3 separate regions of the Homo sapiens genome follow, and regions 1 and 3 are each linked to region 2. The links come from fine-mapping of genetic effects on gene expression. A gene starts in region 2. Each other region holds a variant in brackets. All regions are shown on one strand. Distances are between the middles of the regions.

Evidence for each region. PIP is the estimated chance that this variant, and not a neighbour inherited with it, causes the effect. A credible set is the group of variants that fine-mapping cannot tell apart.
Region 1: its variant is the best candidate, but not a certain one, in a credible set for the expression of CAPN9-AS1 in minor salivary gland (GTEx, PIP 0.66).
Region 3: its variant is the best candidate, but not a certain one, in a credible set for the expression of CAPN9-AS1 in atrial appendage (GTEx, PIP 0.73).

What each region holds. Positions count from the first base shown.
Region 1 is chr1:230,749,520-230,753,711 of GRCh38, forward strand. All of the region lies in intron 1 of CAPN9 (calpain 9), which reads left to right. Among named protein-coding and RNA genes, the nearest start is that of CAPN9, 4.2 kb to the left of the region's middle. RefSeq lists an enhancer at 1,174-4,192. The variant A/G (reference allele first, on the strand shown) is at 2,274.
Region 2 is chr1:230,793,179-230,797,370 of GRCh38, forward strand. CAPN9-AS1 (CAPN9 antisense RNA 1) reads right to left here and starts at 2,033. Exons shown (of 2, transcript XR_001738518.2): 1 at 1,935-2,033. CAPN9 (calpain 9) reads left to right here. Exons shown (of 20, transcript NM_006615.3): 18 at 1,985-2,101.
Region 3 is chr1:230,826,289-230,830,480 of GRCh38, forward strand. The region is part of intron 1 of LOC124904548 (a long non-coding RNA gene); the gene reads left to right. Among named protein-coding and RNA genes, the nearest start is that of CAPN9-AS1, 33 kb to the left of the region's middle. The variant T/C (reference allele first, on the strand shown) is at 1,914.

The sequences.
Region 1 (4,192 bases), 44 kb before region 2:
CCTGCAGTTGATGTCAGGAGCCCTGGGAAATAGAGTTAGAGAAATTGATTTCCTGGGCCCCTGGTGAGCAGAGCCCCTGGCCAGAAGCAGCGGCTCTTTCTGTTTGATCCAGGGTTTCATACAGATGCTCATGTTCTCTACAGGCACTTGATATGAAAAGGTTGGAAGCACTTTTTCTCTTCCTTAAAATGGGGACAATAATGCAACTTATGGGGTCCTCATGAGGGTCAGCTGCGTTACCATGAGTAGAGCACTTAGCAAAGAGCCTGGTGTGTAAAGAATCAGTGCTGGTCCTTGTTATTTCTACTGCTGTCATTGTAACCTAACACCATCGTCTCCTGACTCTAGGAGGGCCCCCATCCTTGCAGTCTATATTGACATCATCTAGTTTAAAGTGTAATCTGTACTCTACAACTCACTTACTTTTTGTCAAAGTTAGAATTCTCCAAGATAAAAGCTGGACGCACAAACCAGCATGGAGGGCATCTTTGTCTCCCCCTTCAGAAGTCTCCCCTCCTGGGACCAGGGCCACCAAGGCCTGCCCAGCGACTCTAGAGTCCCAGATCTCTGCTCCAAGGGGCTGTCTTCCTTAGTATTATCTCCTCTGGCATTGCCCCAAACGCTGGGTGAGGCCTTCATCCACAGGCCAGGGCCCTTGATACACACAAGCCCCTGCCAAGATGCACCCCGACCTGCCACCCAGCCCATGCCCCTGTACCAGCCCTCTGTCCCTTCTTCATCCCACTGTCTCCACCTACGGCAGACCCTTTATTGATCTTAACCCAGGTCTACTGTGTTGCTGTCGTTCCCACAGACTCATTTTCAGAATCTGTTCTGCCTTTTCCTTTGTCTGCAACTGAAGATTGTCCCTTTGGTCTGGTCCTCATTCTCGTACCCCTATCTGTTTCTTATTTAGGGGAGTTAGAAGCTTTACATCATATCTTACAGATTTCTGTAAAATCAGGAACAAAAGGGCTGAGGATGAGCATGGAGACTCTTCTTGCAGCATAGAGTCGCAGGGAGCCGGGGGGTAGCGGGCCATAGGGAAATCACAAGCATTGCCAGGTTCCCTGCAGACCTCTGTGGCTTGGGCATCATTTGCAGTGGGACTCAGCATTACACGGTGCACATCTCAGCAGCCCGTGGGACCGTGGGGCTGGACGGCCCTCCTCCTCAGCACCACCTTCTTGTCAAACACAGCTGTACTTGGGGAGGGTGGGCAGAGCACAAAGCCAAGGGGACATTGGAGGGCAGTGGACAGCCAGGCTTGCCCTCAAGGGAGCCCAGGGCAAGGAGTGCACTGAGGGTGACTCAGGGAACTGGCTGGGAGGGGCTGGGAGGCAGAGAGGGTGATAGGCTCAACCTGGAGAGAAGGTGAGATCACCCCCAGGTCTCATGCAAGGGACTGTGGACCTGAGTGGAAGTGGGTGCACAGAAAGAGGAGGAGGGAGTATCGGGTGAGGTCTCCCAGCCTGATGGGGAACAGCCACCATGCAGTCCATCCCTCCTTGTCTGCCTGTACCCATTTATTTTTGGCCAGGCAATTCCCCCCCACCAATTCTCAGTGTAAATCCAGGACACCTCCCCGAAAGTGCCCACACCCCTCTAGCCCATGTGAACAACCCCTGTGGCAGACCTGTGCACAGCGTGGCATGTGACCACAGCCTCTCCTGCACGGTGAGCTTGCCGTTCCCTGTGCTGCTCCCCTGACCCCCAGGAGGGGTTGTCAGTTGTTCTGGGACAGCCCCAAAGGCCCCATGGCCTCCACAGTGCTGGGCACATGACAGGGATCGGCACATAGCTATGAACAGCAGCGTCTGGCATCTCCAGACCTTGCTGGAAATGTGGCTTTTCTTCACTGGAAGGCCATGTGAAAGACAGAATGAATGAAAAAGAAAGAGAGAAAGAAAGAGAAAAAGAGAGAAGGAGAGGAAGAGAGAGAGGGAAAGGGAAGGAAGGGAAGGGAGGAAGGGAGGAAGGAAGGAAAGAAGGAAGGAAGGAGAGAAAGAGAAAGAAAGATAGAAAAAAAGAAAGGAAGAAGAGAAAGAAAGAAAGAAGAAAGAAACAAAGAAAGAAAGAAAGAAAGAAAGAGAAAGAAAGAAAGAAAGAAAGAAAGAAAGAAAGAAAGAAAGAAAGAAAGAAAGAAAGAAAGAAAGAAAGAAAGAAGGGTGGCTTTTCCCTTTGTGAATTATTCACTGTGCTTAGTAGAGGAAAGTGTGTCTTCGGCTGAGCCCCGATGATGTACAAGGTAAACAGAACAGTCCCTGAAAGCA[A/G]ACATTCCAGGGTGCTTGGCCCTTAGTGCTCCAGGAAAACCACCTGGTGGTAGGGCTGTGGGGTGGGGGAGGGGAGGGGGAGGGGGAGGGGTCTGCGTGCCTCCCTCGGGGCTTCAGGCAGCAGTCTAGGTTCACTTCAGGTTTGTCAAGACCCCTGCAATTGAGACACCTCTGATCGTCCTATCACAGGACTGTAGCTTCAGGTAACCCCTTCCTCATGGCCTCCCAAGCAACATTTCACAGGAACAAATGTACATCCAGGATCGACACGCACATGCAGGACACTCACACGTAGACAATGCTCCCAAGTGCACATGCAACCAGCATACATGTGGAGCATGCACAAGCACACACGTGTACCACACCTGGGCACACACAACAAGGCAAGTCACAGGCACCTTGCACATGTGGGCATGTGGGCCGTCAGCATACACACCACTCCCAGGCATCTAACCCAGGCCCACCGCCTAGCTGCCCCTTCCACACATGCGTCCGCAGAACCCCCTGTGACTGGCACGTGTGCACACCAATTCCCAGAAACACTGACCCACAGAGGAGTCGGTCACACATCCAGACACCTCCCCAATTTATACCCGATGGCTAATTTGTGTTTACTTGGAGAGTTTCTGAGTTTTTTCCTTTTGTATTTTTCTCCTCATTGGGTGCGATCTGGTTTAAAACAAAAACAAAAACAGACCTCTCCTGAACAAAACAACCAATTGCAAGATAGGAGCTGGGAGGCGGTGGCAGCTGCAGGCACAGTTGGTACGGTTGGCGGGGCCAGGCCTGCAGAAGGCTGGGGGAGGGGAGGGGCAGGGAGGATGGGAAGGAGGCGGGCATCCGGGAACAGCCCTGCCCCAGGAGCTAGCACAGCCTGCTGGGCAGGGATCTGTGGCTTTTGGAGTACATTTTATGTCCACTTGAGGAGTGAGTAGCATTGGCAGTGGGGGCATTGCTTGCCAGGGCTATCCCCTGGCAGGGGCTGGGCAATCAAGACAGGGAGGGCTTGGGGGACTCCTGGGTTTCCCTTCGGGCAGGCACATTCTGCAGCAAGCCCAGAATGTCTAAGCTGGTGACAGATGAGGATGCAGCCGTGAGAAGTTAAATGGCCCACCCTGAACCCTACTGCTGAGCGGGGCAGGCTATTCCTGGGACTCTATTGAGGCCCACTGACATGGTCCTGGTTTGCATTGTCCTTCTGGGCTCAGCTCAGAGCCACCTGCAAACTCCTGCGCTAGCCAAGGTGGAGGAGGAAGAAGAGCAGTGTGCTTCCTACAGATGAGAGGGGTCCGCACAGGCAAGCCAAGCCAGGACCCCAGAACTGAGCAGCTGCCCCCCACCTTCACTCCCTTTCCAGCCACCACGGAGATCAGAGTCATTTAATGAAATGGCGCCAAAGCTACCTGGAGCTGGGGGTGGGAATGCAAAGACGTGTGAGACCTGGCAGAGGACAGGCCAGCATTTGGGAGGTCCTTACTTCTGCCGGGCCTGGGGTTTTGGCGCATCTAAAAACACCCCGTGTTCTTCAGAAATTCTCCTGGCCAAGCTTTCTTGAGTATTTTAGACACTAATGCCACACATAGCTCTCCCTGGGCAGGCGCCCCTGGTGTCTGTCACTCCTCCAGGTTGTCACATCCTGGGGAATGCAGAGAGAGCACCAGCATTTGAAGCTTCTGCTCTTGGTCCTGATAATCCCCTTGACTTCAAAGAAATCTCTGTCCTGCCTTTGATTCTTTGGGACACAAGATGAGAGGAGAAGCAGGGTGCTGAGAAGCCTGAGGAAGACAATTCAAAGCAGAGGTCTCTCGGGGAAGGCGGCGCAGCTTGAGCTCCCCACGTGGCGTCCGCCCAGACACTGCTGGAACCTTCCACCTCCAGCCCAGGCCCCTCCTCAGTCCTGGTGCCTGGAAAAGTGGGAA
Region 2 (4,192 bases):
AAATGAACTTGGCCTGCCCTCTGGAGGCCTCATAGCCTCTGACCATGTTTTCTGGCCCAGTACTTAACACATGGCTCTTTGGTGGCAAGCTGCAGTGATTCCAAACTTCTCATTTCTGCTCTCAGATGGTTGTTATCGTGGATGAGACAGAGCATGCAGCACCCATGGTTTGGGGTCCGCACGTCCCTCTGCCACCTGTGGCCCTGTCCCGGGTTTTATCAGCATCAGACTCTGAATCCAAAATGGATGACTGCATCATAGTTTATACCCTGCTCCCTTACCCAAAGGCTGGGCTCCAGGTGGCATTTCCCACTCTTGTCCGGTGCTGGATGGCTGTCGGCATCTCTGTGGTCCCATGTCCTGCACACACAACCGTAGTTTCCACGAGCGCTCTGCAGACCTCCCGCCTGCCGGGCTGCCTGCGCTTCTCACCAAGCACACCTCACAGATAGGGGCCTCCTGAACCTTTTAAAGTGGTTCTCTCCCAGGGAAAGCAAAATCTGGAAACATGTCCAGGCTCAGGCCTGATAAAAGGATGAAGTATACACAGCCAGGACCATCTCGGGTCCTATGTGAGGGAGAAGAAAATCAGATGATTTATAAATGAGCAAAGTGCCAGGCTGAGAAGGGGCGCCTGATTTTCTTAGGGGATGATGACTCTGTTTCCATGGTAGGAGGAGGAACTGAGCAGGGGACAAAGGGAGCACTCAGAGAGGAGGGGCATGGCTGTGTCTTTCCTACCCTGACGTGGTGTGGGGAGAATCGCCCCTCATCCCCCTCCTCTAGCCCCAAACATCAGGATTCTGGCCAAGGCTGGCAGCCAGCACTGCCGTGCAGGCTCCAGGGACTCTGTGCTCTGTGTCTGACCTGCCTGCTCCTCTGCTGGAATTAGGAAGAAGCAGAAAGACCCTGGGTGGATTTCTGAACAATCCTGTGAACACCTCCTAGAAAGTGAACATGTAGACAAAAATGAAAGGGGGAAAGAAATCACTTCTAAGGGCACTAATTAGAAATCAAAGCACTGGCCAGGTGTGGTGGCTCACACCTGTAATGCTAGCACTTTGGGAGGCCTAGGTGGGTGGATCATGAGGTCAGGAGTTTGAGATCAGCCTGGCCAACATGATGAAACCCCGCCTCTACTAAAAATACAAAATTAACCAGTTGTGGTGGCAGGTGCCTGTAGTCCCAGCTACTCAGGAGGCTGCAGCAGAAGAATCACTTGAAATCAGAAGGCAGAAGTTGCACTGAGCCGAGATTGCACCACTGCACTCCAGCCTGGGCAACAAGAGTGAAACTCCATCTCAAAAAAAAAAATCTAAATATCAAATCCAGAAGGAAGTTCACTTTGTCTAAACTCCTCATTTGACAATGAGGAAACCAAAGCCCAGAGAACTGAACCCATATGCCACGGCTGGAGCAGTGCCAGGGCTCAGATCCAAGCCTCCTGGCTATAGCCTGTCATTCTTCCCCCATCGTGGATGTGTAGGAATGGGCCCTGGCAGAGTATCATTCTCCGTGGGCAGCAGCATCCCCTCCAAGAAACTTTCTAGGGCCACAGCTGGAAGTGACCTGAGACATAGAACGCGAGGGGAGGCTGGTGTAGGAATGAACTTGGGGCTCAGACACCACCCAGTGTTAAGTTCCCCCAAACAAAGCTTCCTGTAAAGTCAGCGAGACTCTATGGGTGATGTTAGCATCAAAATTAAGATCACAAACTCGCTAAACTCAGAAGCCATTAAACACAGAAAGCACGCCTGAGAGTCCCCCGCACACTCGCCCCTGCACCACAGATTCACACTCTCACGCTGCATTCACACCAAGGGCAGCAGTCCCACTGGGTCTGGGGACCCCAGCTTTGAGGAGTGAAACAGTGGCTTCCTCTTCTGAGCCCTCTCCTCAGCTGCCTGGGAGCTCCCTCAAAGGTGCAGACTCACCTCGGGGCTCGGATACAGCGAGTCCTGGGTCTCCTCCTTTGTCCCCACAGGCTTTCAGCTGAGCAGCCACCTCCTGCAGCTGATTGTGCTCAGGTATGCGGATGAGGAGCTCCAGCTGGACTTCGATGACTTCCTCAACTGCCTGGTCCGGCTGGAGAATGCGAGCCGTAAGTGTCCAGCGAGGCTGAGGGTGCACCTCGGGGTGGCATCTTCAGTCACCCTCCATGAGCGCATGAGAAACAGCCTGGTTAAAGTAATGGCAAAGATAGACCACAGAGAGCCATGGTCTGATGTGTGTGGACCCATGGGCCTGTGCGGTTAGCTAAGGAGCAGAATGTGCCAGCCTCCCCTGCAGCACGTTTCTTAGCATCGCCTTTCTTTATACATTCACAGTGCCTCTGTGGGAGGATGATGGGCTGGGGCAGGTTTGTGCCTTGTGTTTGAGGAAAGGTTCAATTGCAGGTCAAATCCCATCATAGCATATAGAAACAGGAGAGTCTCAGTCCCCCTTCCTCCCCCCTTCCCCGCCCTGTAAGCCCTAGACATTGACCCAGTTATCTCAAATAAGATTTGTTACACCACAAATAGAGAGGGATTATGTGCCCGTGCGCTTCAGTGTTTGCAGTTTATTGTCATAGCCATCCTGCCCCTCAAAGGTGGTTTTGAAGGTGAGGCTGAGTGAAGCATGTCCAGGGCCTGTAACTCAGTACTGGAGTGGCTATGAGGACATGCCCTGTGTGCAGGTGCCAAAGGACCCGTGCCCTCAAGGGTGCCTCGTGCTTGGTTTAATGTTCTGGCGTTTCCATCTTGAAAGTCTTCACAACTTAGGAGCAGGGGGCCCCGCATTTCCATTTTGTCCTGCTTGGTATTTTCTAATCTATGTTCCATAGGCCACTTCGAGGTATGAATACTTGATTAAAAAAAAAAAAAAGGCAGGGGGCTGGGCACAGTGGCTCACGCCTGTAATCCCAGCACTTTGGGAGGTTGAGGCAGTTGGATCGTGAGGTCAGGAGCTCGAGACCAGCTCATAGCGAAACTTTGTCTCTACTAAAAATACAAAAAATTAGTCAAATGTGGTGGTATGCACCTGTAATCCCAGCTACTCGGGAGGCTGAGGCAGGAGAACCCCTTGAACCTGGGAGGTGGAGGTTGCAGTGAGCTGAGGTTTGCCACTGCACTCCAGCCTGGGCAACAGTGGGAGACTCCATCTCAAAAATATAAATAAATAAATAAATAAATAAATAAATAAATAAATAAATAATAAAATTAAATTAAATTAAAATAAAAAGGTGAGGGCTGTGACCCTTGGTTATCAGCATGATAGCTCCCTCTGCTTCTTTGGTAATAGAACACTAATTACTTGCCTGAAGCACAGCCCCTCTAGACTCTAAGCTCCAGGAGAGCCGTAATTTCTGGACAATCAATGAGTATGTGTTGATTAAGGAATGATGAGAGAAAATCAGAGACAGACCAGCAGGCCCCAAAGGGTCTAGTATATCAAGCCAGGAAGCCGGCTTTCCCTAAGGGGTTACTGGTAGCTAGTGAGAGGTGCATTCTAGAAAGACCCCTCCTGAAACAGAATCCGTTATTAGACTTACAGGGTGGTCAGAGCTGACCCTAGAAATAATGAGATTTGCTAGTTTCTCTTCTCTCCATTGCTCTTTCCCTTTCTAAACCACCCAGGTGTAATCCTTCCCAGAACGGGGGGTGGGAGTGCCTCAGCTTTTCTTATAGTAGAGGAATATTAGGGTGAAGACCCTTTAGGCTTAACACCATCCACTCTGGCATCCTCACATTAGATTTGCCTGGAGAACTTTTAGAATTACCAAGGATGGAGCTTTGCTGCAGTATTATTTTAACTTTTTATTGTAAGAATGTCAACCCTCCAGTTAGATATAAAGAATCATAATAGGTTCCCATGCACTCCACATCAGCACTTCTCAAACTTCGCTGTACATTACAATCTCCAGGGGTGCCTAAAGAAATGCTGATGACCAGGCTGCACAGTTGACCAATTCTGTTAGAATCTCAGGGGTGGCACACAGCATTGGGAGTTACGCAAATTCGCCAGGTGTTTCCAGACCTTTACACCCAACCTCAACAATTACCATCTTGCTAACTTTTCCCTTGTGCTCCCGCAACACATACATTTTCCCCCTAAATAATTTAATAGCAGATCTCAGAAACTCTGTCCATTCATCTGAGTATCTCCAGCTGATAGACTTGTTTTTAGCATCATCTTCATACCATTTGCACAC
Region 3 (4,192 bases), 33 kb after region 2:
GGCACTCGACACCCCCTCTATGGAGTCAGCCCTCGGGGAGTCAGAAAAACAGAGGTAGCCAATCCCACTGCAGGGAGCTGGCAGAGTCAGGTGGCATGCAGGAGGAAGCAGGAGAAAGAGCACAGCAAGAGGGGCCTGGAAATGGGAGCAAAGTCATCAAAGGCACGGCACCCTCTTCAGTGGACGGGCATGGCCTCAGAGGTGGTGGCAAGGAAGGAGGACAGGAGTCTGGCTAGCTGTGTAGAAGCCTTTTGGGGCACCGGGACAGGGAGCCACCTTCTGCCCCCTCACCTCCAGCTTCCCCCGATTCATTGTGCAACTGCTGATAAAATAATGGCTGTCATTGATGGCATGCTTATTGCGTGCCAGGCATTATGTTAACAGCTGTTTTATTCAATCCTCTCAGCAACCCTGTGAGGTTGAGAGAGATAATAGAATCCATCACATCACATGGCTGGGAAGGAATCTCAGTCTGTGCAACTCAAAGTCCATTCTTAATCCCCAACCCTCCTGCACACCCTCACCTGAAGCTCCCCAAGCCAAGACTAGAGGTGCTATCCAGGAGGGTCCCACAAGCAACTGAAGATCTGAGACCCCTGTGTTCTTAATCTTGTGCTCCAGAAGGAATGAGAGCTGAGTGTGGAGGAGGCATACACCGTGCCAAGGCCCCTGGAGCTCAGATCTAAGATTCAAGATGTGTAGGGCCCAGGCACTCTTTGGTCACTGAGGCTGGGTCACCCCTCCTGCCACTCCCTGCGTCTTCCCCATCCACGGCCCCACTCCTACCCCAACTGTGAGCAGTCAGTGATGCTCTTTTAGAAACCACACTACACAGAATGTGGCTGTTTTCTGGATGGCTTCAACCTGCTATCCAACAACAATCAAACCCACATCACGCTCTGGCAAGGCCACGTGGTCCTCCAGGCCCTGAAACTGGCACAGTCAGCGGCCAGCACTGCCATTAGACATGGGAGAAGCTGAGTACAGCATAAGGCCTGAACCTACCACAGGGAAGTCATCTCACCCAGGAAAAGGACTTCTGACCCCCAAAGCAGAGAATGTGCCCAACCTATCTGTGGTTAGGAGACAACTCATTCATTGAATAAGAACTCATTCATTGAACTCATTCATGTGAAAGTCACGGCCACTCATCTGTGCACCATGTCTCTGAAGAGGCCCCTGGATCTGGGCAGCAGCCAGCCTGTCCACCCCCTCCCCACGGGCTGCTCTCGGCCAGCTGTTCCGTCTCTCCTCCTGTGTACAGCCCTGCCTTTTCACCTCACTGGCCTTGCCCCTCTGGCCCTGGGATGCTGCTCTTGGCTCTGCAGCTGTTTGGCTGGATGCCTCTGAATAGAACATTCAGCCTCTATGTTCTTCTATTTCTTCAACTGGAAAACAGAGAGAAATATGGTCATCATTTTTTTTCAAGGGGTAAAGGAGTCATTGGAAGGAATAGCCTGGTAAAGATTCAAAACCCATCGGCTATTTGGAAGAAAAGTTGCTGCATAAATAAGCTGCTTGACCCAAGGCCCATTTTGTACGCTTCTTTGAGGTCAATCTTGTTTATTTTCCTGGCTCACAATCCCCAAAGGTTGGGGTGGGCCAAAAGGCAAACCTGCCCTTTGCAGGGGCCTCTCCTGTCAAATTAATCTGATGACTTGATGGAGCAGTGGGTGGAAGAGAACATGGCCCCGTAAGGTTAGCGGTGGAATCCCTGCTGGAGAGAAATGACGCTGGCCCAGGGGGGATGTGCCTTGTGCCCAGCCTGGACAGGCCAGTTCACTTCTCGGGGCATAGGCTCTCCCTTCCTCCTCATGAGAATAAGAACACCAACTCTACTCCCTGACAGTCTCCTAACTTGGTCTCCTGAGAACTCAGTGAGGCTGGCAGGGAAGGGATGATTATATCTGTGT[T/C]ACAGAGAAGAAAACAGACCTATTCAAAGTCACAGAAATAAGTGGGGACAAGACCTTAGTCTTCTGCCTACGTGACTCATTTTCATACAATACATACCTTAACCCTAACATAGAGCCGTGATACAAGTCAAATGAAAGAATGTACAGAAGGCCTTCCGAAAGGGGGTGAAGCTCTGTGCAGTGCTGTCCAGCAAAAATAAATGCAAGTCACATAATGTGATTTTTGTCACTTATGTGCAACCACATTTAAAGTGTAAAAAGAAACAAATGGCAGGGCGTACCTCCTGCCAAGCTACTCCTAAGCTAGGGCAGCTAGGAGGATCCACAAGGCCTACTCGAAGGAGCTGGAGAACTGCTCAGGGACAAAGAACAAGAACAATGGAAGCAACTCGAACACTTTCACTGCCCAGGGGTCTTCCACCTTTATTTATGTCTTTTCACCAGAACCTTAATTGGATGCAAACCCTCAATGTAGGAAACAAATGAACCCAGAGCTCTCCAGTGGAAGGGCTCAGACCAGCCAACAGGCCTCTCCAAGCTGTCCCCCGAAGCTCCCACTAGAAATTTTAAGTGTTTTTCTTATAGACATCAAATAGTAGGGCTTTCAAAAAATTATTTATTTATTTATTTATTTTTATTTTTTTGACAGAGTCTTGCTCTGACACCCAGGCTGTAGTGCAGCGGCACAATCTCGGCTCACTGCAACCTCCGCCTCCTGGGTAAAAGCAATTCTCCTGCCTCAGCCTCCCCAGTAGCTGGGATTACATGCGTGCACCACCACACCTGGCTAATTTTTGTATTTTTAGTAGAGACAGGGTTTCACCATGTTGGCCAGGCTGGTCTCGAACTCCTGACCTCGTGATCCACCCACCTTGGCCTCCCAAAGTGTTGGGATTATAGGCTTGAGCCACCGTGCTCAGCTTTTCATCCTGACAATTTCTGCTTTTTAATTGGAGTGTTTAGGCTATTTGCATCTGATGTAATTATTGATATGCAGTAGTTACGCATAAAGCTATTAGCTTGCTGTTTGCTTTACACTTGTCCCATTTCTTCTTTGTTTCTATTTTTCCTTTCTTCCTGTTCTCTTGTTGATTAAATTTTAGCTTACATTTTATTTTCACAACGGACTTATTACCTAGATGTCTTTGCTATGATTTTAATAGTTGCTGTACAGTTAATAATTCATATGTTTAACTTGTAACAGTCTGACTTTAAATAATAATAATACCACTTCATGGATAAAATCTTTCAAACAATATACTTCCACTTTGCCCCCACATCTTTGTAATATTCTCATACATTTTACTTCTACAGATGCTATGCATCGGATTTGGATTTTGTCAAAGTCTGACCCCTTCAGCTAGAGAGCTCTAGTTTGATCTCTTTCCAACACATGGTATGGACACCATGAAACATTGTTATTATTTTTGCTTTAAACAGTTGATTATCTTACTAAACATCTTAAAATCCGAAAAAAAGGCTTTTATATTTACCCACATATTTATCGTTTTTTCAGTCTACCTTCCTTTGTGGATACCCAACCTTCTGTGTAGTATTATTTTCATTTTGCCTAAAGAACTTCCTTTAATTTTTTTTTTTTTTTTGTAATTCAGGTCAGCTGGTGACAAGTTTTCTCAGCTTTTGTGTATCTAAAGTTTCTATTTTACCTTCAATTTTTGTTGTTGTTTTTGTTTTAGAGAGGGAGTCTCTCTATGTTGCCTGGCTGGAGTCCAGTAGCTATTCACAGGAGCGATCATAGCACACTACAGCCTCTAGCTCCTGACCTCAAGTGACCTCCCATCTTAGCCTCCCAAGTAGCTGGGGCTACAGGTATGCACCACCGTGCCTAGCTTGCTTTCAGTTTTGAATGATATTTTTTGTTGGACATTAAATTCTAGGTGGGCATTTCTATTTTCCTTTTCAGCACTTTAAAAATGTTCCAGGCCAGGCACCGTAGCTCATGCCTGTAACCCCAGCACTTTGGGAGGCTGAGGTGGGAGATTGCTTGAGCCAAGGCGTTTGAGACCAGCCTGGGCAACATGGTGAAACCCCATCTCAAAAAAAAAAAAAAAGAAAGAAAAGAAAATTCGCCAGGCATGGTGGTTTGTACCTGTAGTCCCAGCTACTTAGGATGTTGAGGTGGGAGGATCACCTAAGTCCAGGGAGGTCAAAGCTACAGTGAGCCATGATCACACCACTGCACATCAGCCTGGGTGACAGAGTGAAATGTTTCACTTACTTCAAGCTTGTATATTTGGGGATGAAACATCTGTAGTCAT